Regions from separate parts of the Homo sapiens genome. Here region 1 is linked to region 2. Evidence: fine-mapped expression QTL. Tissue or cell type: cerebral cortex. Region 2 holds a variant in brackets; the other region holds the start of a gene. All regions are shown on one strand. Distances are between the middles of the regions.

The links. PIP is the estimated chance that this variant, and not a neighbour inherited with it, causes the effect.
Region 1: KANTR starts here. The variant in region 2 is fine-mapped to the expression of KANTR in cerebral cortex (GTEx, PIP 0.97).

The regions. Positions count from the first base shown.
Region 1 is chrX:53,090,308-53,098,413 of GRCh38, forward strand. KANTR (KANTR integral membrane protein) reads left to right here and starts at 3,835. Exons shown (of 3, transcript NM_001397448.1): 1 at 3,835-3,977. RefSeq lists enhancers at 2,927-3,751, 3,464-3,523, 3,834-3,953 and a silencer at 4,014-4,163.
Region 2 is chrX:53,165,034-53,173,139 of GRCh38, forward strand. No RefSeq gene overlaps it. Among named protein-coding and RNA genes, the nearest start is that of MIR6895, 26 kb to the right of the region's middle. The variant G/A (reference allele first, on the strand shown) is at 3,777.

The sequences.
Region 1 (8,106 bases), 75 kb before region 2:
GGAGAGGGATTCAGAGGAGTCAAGATGACTGCCAGGTTGGTGTGAGACCTTTGGCAAGGCCCCTTCCCTCTCTGGGCCTCCTCTGTGAGATGGTTGGAATACCAGATCCTTGACATGTCTCTCCAATGATTCTGATAAATGTTTTGGGGGGGACAGGATGGAGGCTTTGATGTGCTGTCAGAGGTGGGCAGGGAGGACTGAGGCCCAGAAAGGGGAATGTCTTGCCCAAAGTAACACAATACCTCGAGGCCAGAGCTGAGAGTGCAGGATCCCAGAGAAAAGAGACATCTACATGCAATATCTGGAGCCAACCCCAATGAGTATGCGGTGAAGAGGAGGGGAGGGGAAAGCAGCAGGGGCAAAGGCAATGGAGTAGGCCGGAGTAGGCCAGAAAGAGGTCAGCCTGCCAAAGGATCCCAGCCAATCAGAGCCAGAGTAGCCAGTCTGGTTACTCTTGCCTCAGTCTGCCCTACCTCACAACATGACTCTCCTTGTCCTCTCTAGAGGGCCTCAGTTTTCCTATCTATAAACTGAGGCTTATCGTGCAGGGGGATCAGTCCAGGAGAAGCAACCTGCCTAAGGTCTCAAGACAGAGTCTAGCCTTGAAGCAGGTCTCTGAAGTCTGGCCTTCACTGTGCTCTTCCCTGATTCCTCTCTGTCCCCCCAATCAAATCCCCAGCCCCTCATCCTGGCATTTGAGACTCTTCTTCACCCACCCTGTTAGAGAGGGCCTCTGGTCTTCATCTTCAGTGATGCTCTTAAGAGTCAATCATAGTATTCTAGTATAGTTGGCCAGGGTGCTCATGTCCTCGGCTGAGCCATGTGAGGACAGGATGTTCTTTGCCCAGAGTAACATCTTGTTCCCTGTGCCCTCACTCTTCAGTCTGGACCTCCGAAAGAGAGGGCTGTTCTAGGTCTTTAAGGTCACATCTAGCTCCAAGATACTGTCTTCGCTGAAGGCCAGAGAAGACAGGCCCCATTGGCTGAGACCTTAAACAGAAACCAGGAGGATGAAGAGTCATGGGCCCAATGTGCCCTAGGGCCTGTTCCCATGTTGAAACTACTTGTCTTCATATGCTTCCTAGCTTGCCCTCGCTCCTTTGCAGCAGAGGGCCCTGCTCCTGGGTGGGAGGTTCCTGGGATTTCCTGGGACCAGACCTTTAAAGTGCCACCTACTTCTGTGAGTAGAATCGGATTGGCAGGGACAAAACTAGATTCAAGAATGTCCCTCCTTAGGTGACCCAAAGGGCTGGCACTGGCTCCCCCAGTTGGGGGTGTGCAGGATGGTTGGGAAGGAATCCTATTATTCATTCAGTAAACACTTATGAGTACTTACTGTGTGCCTGAAGTACTGAACTGGGTGATAGGGATACAGCAGGGAAACAAGATAGAGCAAGTCTTTTTTTTTTTTTCTTTGTTGCCCAGCCTGGAGTGCAGTGGCACAATCTCCGCTCACTGCAAGCTCCGCCTGCCGGGTTCACGCCATTCTCCTGCCTCAGCCTCCCGAGTAGCTGGGACTACAGGCGCCTGCCACCACGCCCGGCTAATTTTTTGTATTTTTAATAGAGACGGGGTTTCACCATGTTAGCCAGGATGGTCTCGATCTCCTGACCTCATGATCAGCCCGCCTCGGCCTCCCAAAGTCCTGGGATTACAGGCGTGAGCCACCGCACCCAGCCAATAGAGCAAGTCTTTTTCCTCCTGGAGCCTAGAGTTCAAGACAAATATTCTTAATATTTTTTGTGCCATGGACCCCTTTGGTGATCTAGTGAAGCCTAATGGGACCTTTCTTTTTCTTTTCTTTTCTTTTTTTTTTTTTTTTTTAGATGGAGTCTCACTCTTGTTGCTCAGGCTGGAGTGCAATGGTGCGATCTCGGCTCACTGCAACCTCCACCTCCTGGGTTCAAGCAATTCTCCTGCCTCAGCCTCCCGAGTAGCTGGGATTACAGGCGCCCGCCACCACGCCCGGCTAATTTTTGTATTTTTAGTAGAGACAGGGTTTCACCATGTTGGCCAGGCTGGTCGGGAACTCCTGACCTCAGGTGATTCACCCGCCTCCGACCTCCCAAAGTTCTGGGATTACAGGCATGAGCCACCATGCCCCACCAGACCTTTTCTCAGAAAAAAAAAATTGTTTAAATTCATAAAATAAAATATCTAGAATTACAAAAGAAATTGATTACATTGAAATATAGTTATTAAAATATGGAAAAAGCAAATATGTGCTATAGTATAATCGTATATGTACTCCCCATTAATCCATTAAATCATAAGATTTAATGGAGGGTCTAATGACTATCATGATTTTAAAATAATGATTGAAATTATATGATTTTCAAGAGATCTGCAACATCTATAATGTGATATGAAAATCTCTGATTTCTATTAGTGACAATCAGTACTGCTACTACTGCTGCTACTATGCCTAGTTACATTCTTTATTGAAAAATGCTAAATTTCAGTTAGAGGAGAGGGAAAATAAAGATGTAATTTTGTTTTATTTTTTTGAGACGGAGTTTCAATCTTGTTGCCCAGGCTGGAGTGCAATGGTACGATCTCAGCTCACGGCAACCTTCGCCTCCCAGGTTCAAGCGATTCTCCTGCCTCAGCCTCCCTAGTAGCTGGGATTACAGGCATGTGCCACCACGCCCGGCTAATTTTGTATTTTTAGTAGAGATGGGGTTTCTCCATGTTGGTCAGGCTGGTCTCGAACTCCGACCTCAGGTGATCCGCCCGCCTCGGCCTCCCAAAGTGCTGGGATTACAGGCATGAGTCACTGCGCCCGGCCATAAAGGTGTAAATTTGTTCCCATCCAAATTCATGGACCTCTCCAAACCCTGTCCCCAGCCTCGATTAGAGGTCTGCAGAATACAAATTAAGAACCCTTGCAAATAGGAGGGTCCTTCCCATCTCTCCTTCCTTCTTAAACAGTTTTCCTTTGGAAGCCTGGGTTTTATTCTGGGTCTTACTGCGCCGACTGCCGGCGGTGTACGGTAAGAAGACGCAAAGACGGGGCGGTGGTGGGGAGTGGTAGCGGGAAGAGGCAGGGCCGGAGCGCGCGAGGGGTGGGGCCTGGCTGTGTGACTTCAAGCCAGTCAGTTTGCCTCTCTGGGCCATAAGTTCTGTCCGCCTGAATACTGGGAAAGAATTGGGAGGAGAGAACTTAATTATTTATGCCCCAGGCAACTGATCTATATTTGCCCTCTCATTTAATCCTCACACATTGTGAGGAAAATTTTAAAACATCTTTCCATTTCCAGATGGTTAAACTGAGGCTCCTAGCGAGGTTGTCACTTGACCAATGTCTCAGCAGGTATCAGGGACTGGTAGGTGACACGCCACATCCCCATAGCCACCTCATCCTCCATGCATGGAATAAGGAACTCTGCTCACTTTGAGCGAGAGAAACCTGGCTTAGGAATCTCTGCAGGTGGGTGTGGAACTGTGAGAAACTAGGGGCAGAATCGCGTCTCTTAGCAGAGCGGTGGCAGTGCAAGGTGGCTTATGGAGAGTAAAACGTCAAAGAAGCCAGGCATCTCGATTGTGCAGTGACTCGGCGCCTGGCGTGGCTTCCGGCTTCCCGCCTGCGTATTCCCAAGTAGCCGCCTGAAGACCTGTCGAATAGACAGGCAAAGGGCCATGACAAGCACTCCTTTCCTGGCCAATCCTATTAAAGGGTGGGCTTGGCTCTTTAACCAATCAAAGTCCCCCGAAGGGGCGGAGTTTTCCTCGGTTTGGCTCTAAGCCTCGGGGGTAAAAATAAAATGTTTCCATCCCCAGCCAATCCCTGGAAAGGCAGAAGGGCACTCCTCCAATGGGAGCCGGGGAGCCGTCGGTAGCGGCGTAGGCCCGTGCCCCTGCTCGCGCTGCAGCCCGTGGAAGGGTTCCGTCCAGCGTATCCTTCAGATCTTGCTGTAGGCCTCTGGTGTCTGTGCGCGCGCGGCAGGGGCGGCGGCGGCGACGGCCGGAGGTGTACGGTGAGAAGCCATAAAGACGGGGCGGTGGGGGGAGTGGCAGCGGGAAGAGGCCGGCCGAAGCGCGCGAGGGGTGGGGCCTGCGCGAGCTTTTACTGGGGCGGCCTCTCAACCCTAGGTCAGCGGGTTGCGGAGGATCGTGCGGGTCGCAAAGGGAAGCCGAGTGCTCCTGCGGCTCCCAGACTGCAACCAGGTGAGTACCCTGCGGAGCGGTCGGTGCCCGTTGCTGCCCTCCCGCGGCCCCACCTCCCACCCTCAGTGTCTTTCGAAACGGTTCCATGCAGGTCTGCCGCTCACGTGATCGTCTGCGTGCGTGTCTGTCTTTGCATCCCCTCTCCCATCTCTGTCTCTGTCCCACTTTTTGAGACGTAGTAGATATAAGATGCTGAATCCTGACCAGTTTAAACTAGCTATGAAACCTTGAGCTATCTCCTTCACCAGCCTGGGCCTCAGTTTCCTCATCTGCCAAATGGGGGTCTGATAATGTGTACCTGAGACAATGCATGTGCATTACTTTGCCCTGCACCCGGTCCTTAGAAAATTTTCAATAAATAATGACTATCTTGACTGAAAAGAATATTGTCTCTCTTGGTTTCTGTCTTTTCTCTGTCTCTGACCCTTCCTCCATTGGATCTTTCTGAATGCTTCTGTCTTTCTCTGTTACTGTTTTTCCTCTTTTTACCCGTCTCTTTCTCAACCCTAAAGAGGTTAGAGGTGCATAGTTTATAGCAATAAGTTTTACCCCCGAGGACATGAGCTTAGCCTGGGGCTCCGACCTGTTCTGTGGGTAAAAAATGGAGCCTGGCTTTGGGTTGCTTCTGGTGTCATTGAAGAGAGAACTCTCTTTGCTCCCCAGCCTACTCTGTTAAACAGGTAGAGACACCCAAAGTTGGGAGCAACTTAGATTAAAAACCACTTTTTAATAGCCCCTTATCCTATATAATGTTAGTCACCACAGGAAGCCCACAGATCTCCTGGTTATGTCTCCATACAGCCCTGGACATCCTATTTTCTATTTCCATCCTGAAATCCTTTGACCAGGCCTTAAGGAACTCACCTTCAGTTATCAGCAAAATTCCCTCCATTCTCATCCTGGCTTCTGAATACTCCCTTTATTTTCTTGCTATGCTTTGGTCGTTCTCATACCTGTTGGACCCAACATTGCTTTTTTTTTTTAATAAGGTGTATTTTGAAATGCTTCACTATTCTAAAATGAAATGGATAGAAAATAGAATCTGTCTACACCCATAATTCCCTGAAAACCAATATAATGCCCTAATTGTAATATAGAGAGTAGTAAAGGAAGAGTAATATATAATATTATATTATACATATATCGCACATATATATGCAAAGACTGGGATATGACTCCATTAGAAGACATGATGAAATGGTCTTACACTTAATGATAGTGACAGCTACATGTGTGTTGATTGGTGATTCAGAAGCCACAGGTAGAGTGACACAGTTTTCCTAAATAATGAACAATTCTTCACAAAGTTCTAAACAAAACAATGTGGAAGAGTTTCTCAGTTTATATGGTCGTTAAATTTCTGGAAAAATCAGTATATATTAATATCCATGATGAGACCCTCTTAATCTCCCTGACCTTATCTCCCACCACTCTCCCCCCTTGCTCACTCTATCTACCCATGCTGGCCACCTTACTATTACTTGAACACCTTAGGCACACTTCCGCCTCAGGGGTTTTGCATTCCGTGTATCTGGAATGCTCTTTCCTCAAATACCCACAAGGCTCAGGCCCTTGCTTCCTTCAGGCCTCTACTCAGCTGTCACTTTCTCAGAGGGCCCCCCAACCATCCTGTTTAAAATTGCAGCTCTCCCCTAATATGCCCCTGCTCTGTCTGTTCCATGGTATTCTACACCTTTTTCACAGTGTAGCATTAACTGCTTAGTATGTTTGCTGTTTATTGTCTGACTCTCCCACTCAATTATAAGCTCCAGAAGGGCAGGGATTTTTGTCTTTTTTGTTCTATGATACATTCCTATTACCTAAAATAGTGCTTGACACCTAGTAGACTTTCTCAATGAATGTTTGTTGAATGAATAAAAGAACAAATGAACAGGTTTTTCACCTACATTACTGGTGAGATATTCTAAAGTTGTATGGAATGTGGTATGATTCTTTGTGGTGTGGAGCTGTCCTGTACACTGCAGAGGGCTGAGCATCCCTGGTCCATAGCTAGGGTTGTCACTGATGATCTCCAATTATTGTCACAGTCAAAAATGCCCCCCAAACAGGGCCGGGTGTGATGGCTCACGCCTGTAATCCCAGCACTTTGGGAGGCCAAGGTGGGCAGATCGCTTGAGTCCAGGAGTTCGAGACCAGCCTGGCCAACATGATGAAACCCCGTCTCTACAAAAAATACAAAAATTAGCCGGGTGTTGTGGTGCACGCCTGTGGTCCCAGCTACTTAGGAGGCTGAGATGGGAGGATTGCTTGAGCCCAGGAGGCAGAGGTTACAGTGAGCCAGGATTGCACCACTGCACTCCAGCCTGGGTGACAGCGAGACCCTGTCTCAAAAAAAAAAGCAGTAAAAAATGGGTCGGGCACTGTGGCTCACACCTGTAATCCCAGCACTTTGGGAGGCCGAGGTGGGTGGATCACCTGAGGTCAGGAGTTCAAGACCAGCCTGGCCAACATGGTAAAACCCCGTCTCTACTAATAATACAAAAATTAGCCAGGCCCACATGGTGGCACATGCCTGTAATCCCAGCTACTCGGAAGGCTGAGGCAGGAGAATCGCTTGAACCCAGGAGGCAGGGGTTGCAGTGAGCCAGCCTGGGCAACAAGAGCGAAACTTCGTCTCAAAAAAAAGAAAAAATGCCCTGAAACACCCTTTAATTGTCCAGCCCCCACCTCTCAGTGAGAACCATTGCTTAAGTAGCAGCCTGGCTTTCCCTGAACACTCTGTCCTCCCGGCAGCCCTCTCATACCCCTCTTACCGGGAAACTGGGTGGTGAGGGTGAGGGTGGGTATGCTTGCTCCTAGTTACCCTTTCCAGACATTCTTCCTCCTCAAACAACCCTTTTTTCATTTGTTTTAAGTTTTTTTTTTTTTTTTTTTTGAGACAGAATCTCACTCTGTCACCCAGGCTAGAATGCAGTGGCACAGTCTTGGCTCACTGAAGCCTCCGCCTCCCAGGTTCAAGTGATTCTCCTGCCTCAGCTTCCAGAGTAGCTGGGACTACAGGCATGCACCACCACGCCTGGCTAATTTTTGTATTTTTAGCAGAGACAGGGTTTCACCATGTTGGCCAGGCTGGTCTTGAACTCCTAACCTCAAGTGATCCACCCGCCTTGGCCTCCCAAAGTGCTGGGATTACAGGTGTGAGCCACCAGGCCCAGCCAAGAATTTTTAAACTTAAAATAATTTCAAACTTTTAAAAAGCTTCAAAAATTATACAAGAATTCTCATATATTCTTCACTTAGATTCCCCACATGTTAAGAAATTATATAATTACAGACTGGGCGCAGTGGCTCACGCCTGTAATCCCAGCACTTTGGGAGGCCAAGGTGGGCAGATCACCTGAGGTCGGGAGTTCGAGACCAGCCTGGGCAACATAGTGAAACCCTGTCTCTACTAAAAATACAAAAATTAGCTGGGTGTGGTGGCTTGTGCCTGTAGTCCCAGCTACTTGGGAGGCTGAGGCAGGAGAATTGCTTGAACACAGGAGGCAGACGTTGCAGTGAGCTGAGATCATGCCACTGCACTCCATCCTGGGTGACACAGCGAGACTCTGTCTCAAAAAAAAAAAAAAAAAAAAGAAAGAAAGAAATTATATAATTACAGTGTAACTATCAAAACTAGAAAATTAACATTGATACATACAGGCATATCACAGGTTCAGTTCCAGACCAACACAATAAAGCAAGTCAGATGAATTTTTTGGTTTCCCAGTGCATATAAAAGTTATGTTTACACTGTACCATAGTCTATTAAGTGTACAATAGCATTGTATCAAAAAAAGTATTTACCTTAATTTAAAAATACTATATTGCTAAAAAATGCTAAAGATCATCCCAGCCTTCAGCAAGTTGTAATTTTTTGCTGGTGGAGGGTCTTACCTCGATGTTGATGGTTGCTGACTGAGCAGGGTGGTAGTTGCT
Region 2 (8,106 bases):
TTAATTAAAAGTGAATATTCAAGTTTTAGGTATATTTAAAAGGCCTTTATGTTTTTCTTTTCTTGGATCTTGTTTTCTGGAAAAAGGTTCTTCTCAGTCGGCTGAATTATTTTCTTCCATTTTTTTTTTTTTTTTGTCTTGCCACTCTTAGTGCATGCATGAAAGGCCCTGAGATAACTTCTGGTAGCATGGGACTCCTTGGGAAAAATAGAGGAGGTGCCACAGACCCTGTTTTGGGGAAAAACCTGTTTTCCTCATGAAACCCCAGAAATTAAAAGCAAATAGTTCCCTCTCAAAATCAAAGGCTCTGTTCTGTTTTGCATTATCTGATGGTTTTGAGTTTTGCGGTATCAGAAATTACTCCGCATTGTAAGAGAGCTTTGGTGTATAATAACTAGGTAAAAAATACCCTGTAAGGGGTGGCTAATAATAGTTATAAATCAGAAAAGCATGCTCTTGGCCACCTGAAAAATAAGGAAACATCCCCACCCCACACTGGGAGATGAGACTCCCGTCAGAGATGGGCTAATTACAAAATAAGCCAGTTGGCTTTGGGTTGCCTTGCAATGAAATGCATGGTAGAAGCACTATACTGTCTTCTCCTCTAGTATCTATATGGTCTTTTCATAAATTAAGCATTGAAATAAAAGCATAGCAAGGAGGTCTTAAAACACTACTCTGCCTTTTAGTAAAAGGGTTATAAAAAGTTTGTAGAAATTTCACTTCATGGTCAAGTTGGTTAGGATTAGATGGAATAATCTATAAGGTTTTATTTAAACAAATTAGGGTTAACATTAACAAACTAATACAAGGGTAAAATTTGGTTTTAAACAGGATTTCCATGTCATAGTAAAGGCTAATAAAAGGTTTTTGACTTTTAAGTCATCATTTGGGCAAAATAATCTATGGCAGTCTGGGAACTGTCCTTCCTAATTGGCTTTTTGGATGGTTCATAGGGCCCCTGAAACATTTAAAAAAGAGATAAACAGGATTATTTGACATGTTTAGTCACATGAGATTGCCAAAATGATGTCCAATCTTCTTTAAGTTATATTTTGGTGAATAATACTAATATATGTTCAAAAATTGTATGGGATTTCTAAAATTCTAATGTCTAAGTATATGCTCTCAGTCATAATTAAAGGTAAAGTTATCGTAGACCATGGATATACACAAACTTCTTTGTCAGTCATGTTTTTAATTGTAACTACCCAGGAAATGTTGCCATTCGCAGACAAGTGTTTTGTTCCTTCTCAAAAGACGGTTTGTAATCAAGCTATATTAAGAACTTTAACAGGTGTTCTCAAATGCAGGTTTTAATAGCTTTACAGATTGTAACATTGGAACAGAGAAAGAACATAGAAAACTTTTAAAGAACTGACATGTTCACAAATATCAAGCAAAACAAGAGTTAACTAAATGAGTTGCACTCAGAAAGTTAAAGCAAGTCTTTTATCTTTTGCTTGGAATACTGCTGATCCTTGTTTTGTTTTTCAGAGTCAAGGAGAAACTTATTTTAAACTATTGATGGCCTTTAATAATTGAGTAAGGTATATTCCTATGAACAAAATTTAGAGCATGTTTATTTCTCTGCCTGGTTCCTCTGGAATTTGGGAACTATCTGTGAATACTCTTAACTTATGGCAATATAGTTGTTTGCATCGGTGCAATAAGAATCCATTTTTCTTTGTCAGCGGGACACAATTGGAAAAACTGGTTATTTTACCAAGGCTTTAACTGAAAGGGTGTGTTTCTCTTTAAGGAATCAAGCTTGACATGCAGAGCCAATAAAAGCCCCTTGGGGAGAACTGGCCTCATACCTTGTCTACACAGTCCCTGCACAGGGTTCCTAACCTGTGGTTAGTAAAGAATGTCACTTTCTAACAGGTCTGGAAGCTCCGAGTTTATCTTGGGAACTCAAGAGGAGAGGATCACCCAGTTCACAGGTATTTGAGGATACAAACCCATTGCTGGGCTCGGCTTTAAAAGTCTTATCTGAAATTCCTTGTGAAACAGAGTTTCATCAAAGCCAATCCAAAAGGCCTATGTAAAAATAACCATTCTTGCTGCACTTTATGCAAATAATCAGGCCAAATATAAGACTACAGTTTATTTACAATTTGTTTTTACCAAAAATGAGGACTAGAGAGAAAAATGGTGCTCCAAAGCTTATCATACATTTGTCATTAAGTCCTAGTCTCATTAATTGTTTTCAAGCTTTTCGCCTACATTTTAGACTAACCCTGCTTATTCCTGTGAATCAAGTAGTGGTCTCCTGCAGCTTGGAAGAAAAAATAAGGGATGGGTAATGTAAAAATCTGGATCAATATACTGGTTCTGGGCAATTATCCTGCAAATTCTGCCAGGTAATAAAAGTGAGTAGGGTGCCCATAATCCGGAAGTTTCTTTGTTTAGGAAAATAAAAACAAGGAACTTCATAGACCCCCCCCAAAGGGGAATTCTATATCTTGACAAGTAAAATTTTAGATGGAAATTATCTACAACACCACACTTACGGAAATTGCTATCCTCACTCTATTATTTGCAAAAGGGTTATACACAGTAGCACCTTCTAACTGAAGTATTAAACAGAGTTTCCATTGCTGTCGTATTTTGCTTAATTATTATCCTTATAGCAGGGATAATAGTTACTAACAAAAAGGAAGCATGAAAGTTTTACTATCACTGAGCCTGGTAGGACTTTTTATTGGGTTTAGTGATGCAGTTTTAAATGAAACATGCCGCTTTTGGATTAATACCTCTAGTAAAGGAAAATTTACAGATACTTAAAAATCAAATCAAAATTATTGATAGGCTCAGGAAAAATGCCAGCTTCAGCCCTGAGTGGCTACAAACCCTCTTTAATAAATTCCAGTCTTCTTTATGGAATTGGTTAACGCCTTTATTAAGCCCTCTCTTGCTTATATGTCTTGTATTGATATTTGGACTCTGTATATACAATACTATAACTCGAATTGTTTCTTCTCGCCTAGAAGCAATCAAACTCCAAATGGTGCTGTAAACTGAACCACACATGGACAGGCCATTCTTCCGAGGACCCTTAGATTGATCCCAGGGGGAGCCCTAGCTGCTATTCCCCATTCAACGCCCCTTTTCAGCAGGAAGTAGCCAGAAGGAGTCGCCGCCCAAAATCCCCTAACAGCAGTTAGTGTGGCATCTCCACAGGAAGTAATGTTGTAGGAGTTACTAAGAAATTATTTTAGGCAGATAGAGAGGAAAAGGGGTCCTTGGGAAGTTTTCATTTTTTAAAGCATCTCTGGAAAAGTTTCTTGTAAAGCCCCGGCTCTTAGAGCCAGGCTGGCAACCTTTGATATGCAAATGTAAGCCATTAGAAACCAGGTCCACCCAGGCCAGGTGTGGTGGCTCACGCCTGTAATCCCAACACTTTGGGAAGCCTAGGCAGGTGGATCACCTGAGGTCAGGAGTTCGAGACCAGCCTGGCCAACATGGTGAAACCCCGCCTCTAATAAAAACACAAAAAACTAGCCAGGTGTGCTGCTGTGTGTCTGTAATTCCAGCTACTTGGGAGGCTGAGGCAGGAGAACTGCTTGAACCCAGGAGGCAGAGGTTGCAGTGAGCTGAGATTGCATCATTGCACTCCAGCCTGGGCGACAGCAAGACTCTGTAAAAAAAAAAAAAAAAAAAAAAAAAAACAGCCAGGCGTGGTAGCACGCCTGTAGTCCCAGCTACTTGGGAGGCTGAGATGGGAGGATCACCCTCGACTGGGGAAGTTGAGGCTGCAGTGAGCTGAAATC[G/A]CACCACTGCACTCCAGCCTGGGTGACAGACTGAGACCCTGTCAAATAAATAATGTATGTATGTATATATGTATGTATGTATGTTAACCTCATCCCAAAACATCCTCACAGAACATCCAGAATAATGTTTGACCAAATATCTGGGCACCAATGGCACATTCAAGTTGACACATAAAATTAACCCTCACAATACCGTACTGTACAACTTTTGGAGTGAAGCTGGAATGTCATCGCATTTCCAAGACTAACTCAGTGTCCACAAATGATGCTTAAGTCATGAGGATCATCTCGGATTTGGATTTGGATGCCTGTCAAGCCCTCACTCTTCAGACTAAATGTCTGATTTGCATGGAGAATTATCAAGAGAAGCAACAATGCCAAGCAGACTATTCCAGGTCAAAATAGTCAAATTAATAATTCATAAATTATTATATGTTTTGAAGGTATTGCAAAATTAAAGTTGCAAGAACAGTACAGATAACTTTTTTCCTGAACCATTTGAGAGTAGGTTGCAGACCTGGTGCCCCATCATTTCTGAATATTTTAGTGTGCATTTTCTACAAACAAGGACATTTTCCAGCATAACCACAATGCACCCATCAATGTCGTGAAATTAATGTTGGTACATTACTACCACCTAGTCCTCAGACCCTATTCAAATTATACCAGTTATCATAATAGTTTCTTATAATTTATAGCAAAATGATCCAAACCAGGAGCATGCATTGCATTTTTATGAATTTTTAAAACAATTAAGTCTGTGTAGTGAGTGAAGCCACAGTGATAGGAATATATAAAGGCTTTGCATCTAGAATTTGTTCTGAAAACCCTGAGATTCAAGTAGTACATTATTTCATTTACTATTTTACACAGAGAAGCCCTCATTTTTAAGAGTTTGCCTTTCTGATTTCCACCGGAAATGATACTATCAGTATCATACTCAGAATCTTAATTACATACAAGGCACTAACCTCTCACCTGTTTTCAGCTTTGTGTAAAGACAAGGGATCAAAACATCCCTTTCTGCTATTTCATACTTAAGTGTGGGAGCTGATCCAAAGGAAGAATAGTTTCAAAAGTTTGTAGCAAAAAAAATTTAAAAGGTGAAGATTTTTTCCTTGAATGATTCTCACCTGGCAGATCTATGGAAAGATTAGCTGACTCTTTGGATCCCTGAATATAGTTAATAGAAATTTGGAAGGACCATGTCAAAATTAACTAATGTGAACTGACAAAGATTTGGTGTTCAAAGCAAAAATTAAACTTTGGAAAAGTGAGCAAGTACTTAATCAGAAACAAAAAAAAAAAAAAGAAAGGAAAAGTTAGGTGAAAATGGTTTCCAGGTGTTGTTGCTGTTATAGTTTGAATCATAAAAGTTGTTAAAAGTCTGCTGTAACAAACCATCATAGACTGGGTGACTTATAAAGAACAAAAATGTATTTCTCACAGTTCCAGAGGCTGGGAAGTCTAAGATCAAGGCATCAGCAGATTCAGTGTCTGGTGAGGGCCCACTTTCTGGTTCATAGATGGCACCTTCTCACTGTCTCCCCACGTGATGGAAGGGGCAAGAGGTCTCTCTTGGTACTCTTTTATTAAGGGCACTAATCCCATCCATGGGGCTCCACCTTCATGACCTATTCATCTCCCAGAGGCCCTACCTGCAGATACCATCGTATGGGGGATTTGATTTCAGCCTGTGAATTTGGGGGAAGCGGGACAAACATTCGTTTTGTAGCAAAAGGAGTAGAGTAATATCTGCCAATAACTGGAGGAAAGAATTGTTCTTTTAAAACTATTAAATTGTTTAATGGGATTTAAATGATTTCAGGAATGAAATGGAAATCCTGGTAATGGGTAGAAACATAGGTAAATTCTCCTTTTCCACTTACCACCACCTGTGTGAACAACAATCATTTCTCATTAATAGTCAAGAATTTGAAGAGATCATGAGTAAAAAGTCTTGATCAGAAATTGTGTATAGCTGTTTCCAGCATAAAACCTTATATAAAATGCATATTCATAGAAGATGCTCAAGTATGTCATGAAAAATATGAAGTTTATTTAAATATTTATACAAATTAAAGATTTACTGTATTCTCTAACAGCGCGTATTTTCTTTTTTGTAATAACTATATGAAATAAATACAAAGTAACACGTTTTTACCAAGCCCCCTTCCCATCCTTCTCATCACCCTCAAACTCCCTCCAAATAGAGTCAGAGAAACAGCCAGAGGGATGTCTCCACTGAGACACAGGGAGGTCTTGCACCCAGGCAGTTCAGCAGTTCCTGGGCGGGTGGCCCTTCCCATCTGAGTACCCCTCAATGTGCCTGCTCCTCCTGGGATCCTTTCTGCTCCCTTGGGCCTCTGTTTTTGGTCTGCAATGGTTGGTTATGTAGAGGGATCAGTATTGGGGTTGTCCCAAGCCAGGCTACAGGTTGAGCAGGTAGCCACATAGGCCACATAGCAGGACGGGCCCAGCTGGGGACTCTGATGTCTGCAATTAGGGGTGGCAGGAAGTAATGGATGCACAGGCGCTGACTTGGCCTGGCCTTAAGCCTTAGTCTAGCGGAAAGGTCTGGCTGTTTACCTGCCTTCCTATTTGGAGCTGATCCCAGGACCAAACGGGATGCCATCGTACCAAGGGCAGGGAGATGAAGGGAGGCCCTCAGAAGAGAATGAGGCCTAAATGCCAGGTAAAGGGCAGGAAGGGGTTCAATCCCAGCAGCACCTCCTGGTGGTAGTTGGGGAAATAAAATGGCCAGAGAGGAGACTGGCCCTGAAGGCATCTCCAGAGCTTGAGTCCCTCAGTAGCCAACCTGAGCTCCTAAACCCCTCTGGACTAGGTCCCCTTCTCCACTTAACCTGCCTCCTCAAGAAAGACAGGATGGGGCCGGGCACAGTGTGGCTCGCGCCTGTAATCCTAGCATTTTGGGAGGCCGAGGCAGGTGGATCACCTGAGGTCAGGAGTTCGAGACCAGCCTGGCCAACGTGGTGAAACCCCGTCTCTACTAAAAATTTAAAAATTAGCCGGGCATGGTGGTGGGCGTCTGTAATCCCAGCTACTTGGGAGGCTGAGGCAGGAGAATCACTTGAACCTGGGAGGTGGAGGTTGCAGTGAGCCAAGATTGTGCCACTGCACTCCAGCCTGGGCAACAGAGTGAGACTCGGTCTCAAAAAGAAAGAGAGAGGAAGAGAGAAAAGAAAGGAAAGAAGAAAGAAAAGAAAAAGAAATAAAAAGAAGAAATAGAAGAAAAGAAGAAAGAAAAAAGAAAAAGAGGAAAGAAAGAAAAGAGAGGAAGAAGAGGGAGGGAGGGAGGGTGGGAGGGAGGACCTTCTGGCAGGTGCCCTGGGGAAAGGGGGATGGAGCTGGAGCATGATGTGGTGGTGGGGGCGGGTGGGTCTCTTCACCTCAGAGGACTGGGTGACCAACACTGCCTTGAAGCTGCCGTCTTTCTGGAGGCCATCACAGTCTGCGGGGGTCGCAAGTCAGGGTACCCCCAGTGACCCTGGCCCTATAAAGCCTTGCATTTCTCCACCTGATCTCCCTCCCATCTTACTTCCAGTGCCCCAGCCGTTCCCAGCAGGACAAGCTGGGCCCCACCGTCTGGTTTCTAGGCCTTAGCTACTGCTGAGGTGGATTCTCCTCCTTCTCACAACCTGAGAAACCCCTACTCATCTCTCCAGACAGTTCATCACCACCTTCTCTGGGGTCTTCCTTCACCTTCCTTCAGACACAGAAAAGTGAAAATATTAGCTATGAAAAATATATAGTTGAAAGAAAGAACACAATAGATGGGACAAATAGCAGGTTGACCACAGATGAAGAATGAATAAGTGAATTGGGAGATCAGATTGAGGACCTCTCCCAGAAAGCAGCAGGAAAGAATAAAAATATAGAAAACAATAATTTAAAAAACAAGAGAAATGGAGAAATGTCCGCATTTTGATAATAGCCTTAGAGTATAATCATAAATAAATAAAGAAAATATTTGAAGAATGGAGGTAAATATCCCAGGAATAAAGTTTGCTGAATACAAAATCAGCTTACGAAATTCTATTGTATTTCTATATAAAAACAAATACAGCTGAAAAACAAAAAATTAAATTATTTAAATAGCATTAAAAAATCACTTACCTAGAAATCCCAGGAATAAATCTAACAGACAATGTGTAAATCCTTTCTGGAGAAAACTATAGCACTTGCAAAAGAGAGATTAAGGAAGATGACCAATGCCGGGCATGGTGGCTCACTCCCGTAATCCCAGTAATTTGGGAGGCCGAGGCAGGAGGATCACCTGAGGTCAGGAGTTTGAGACCAGCCTGGCCAA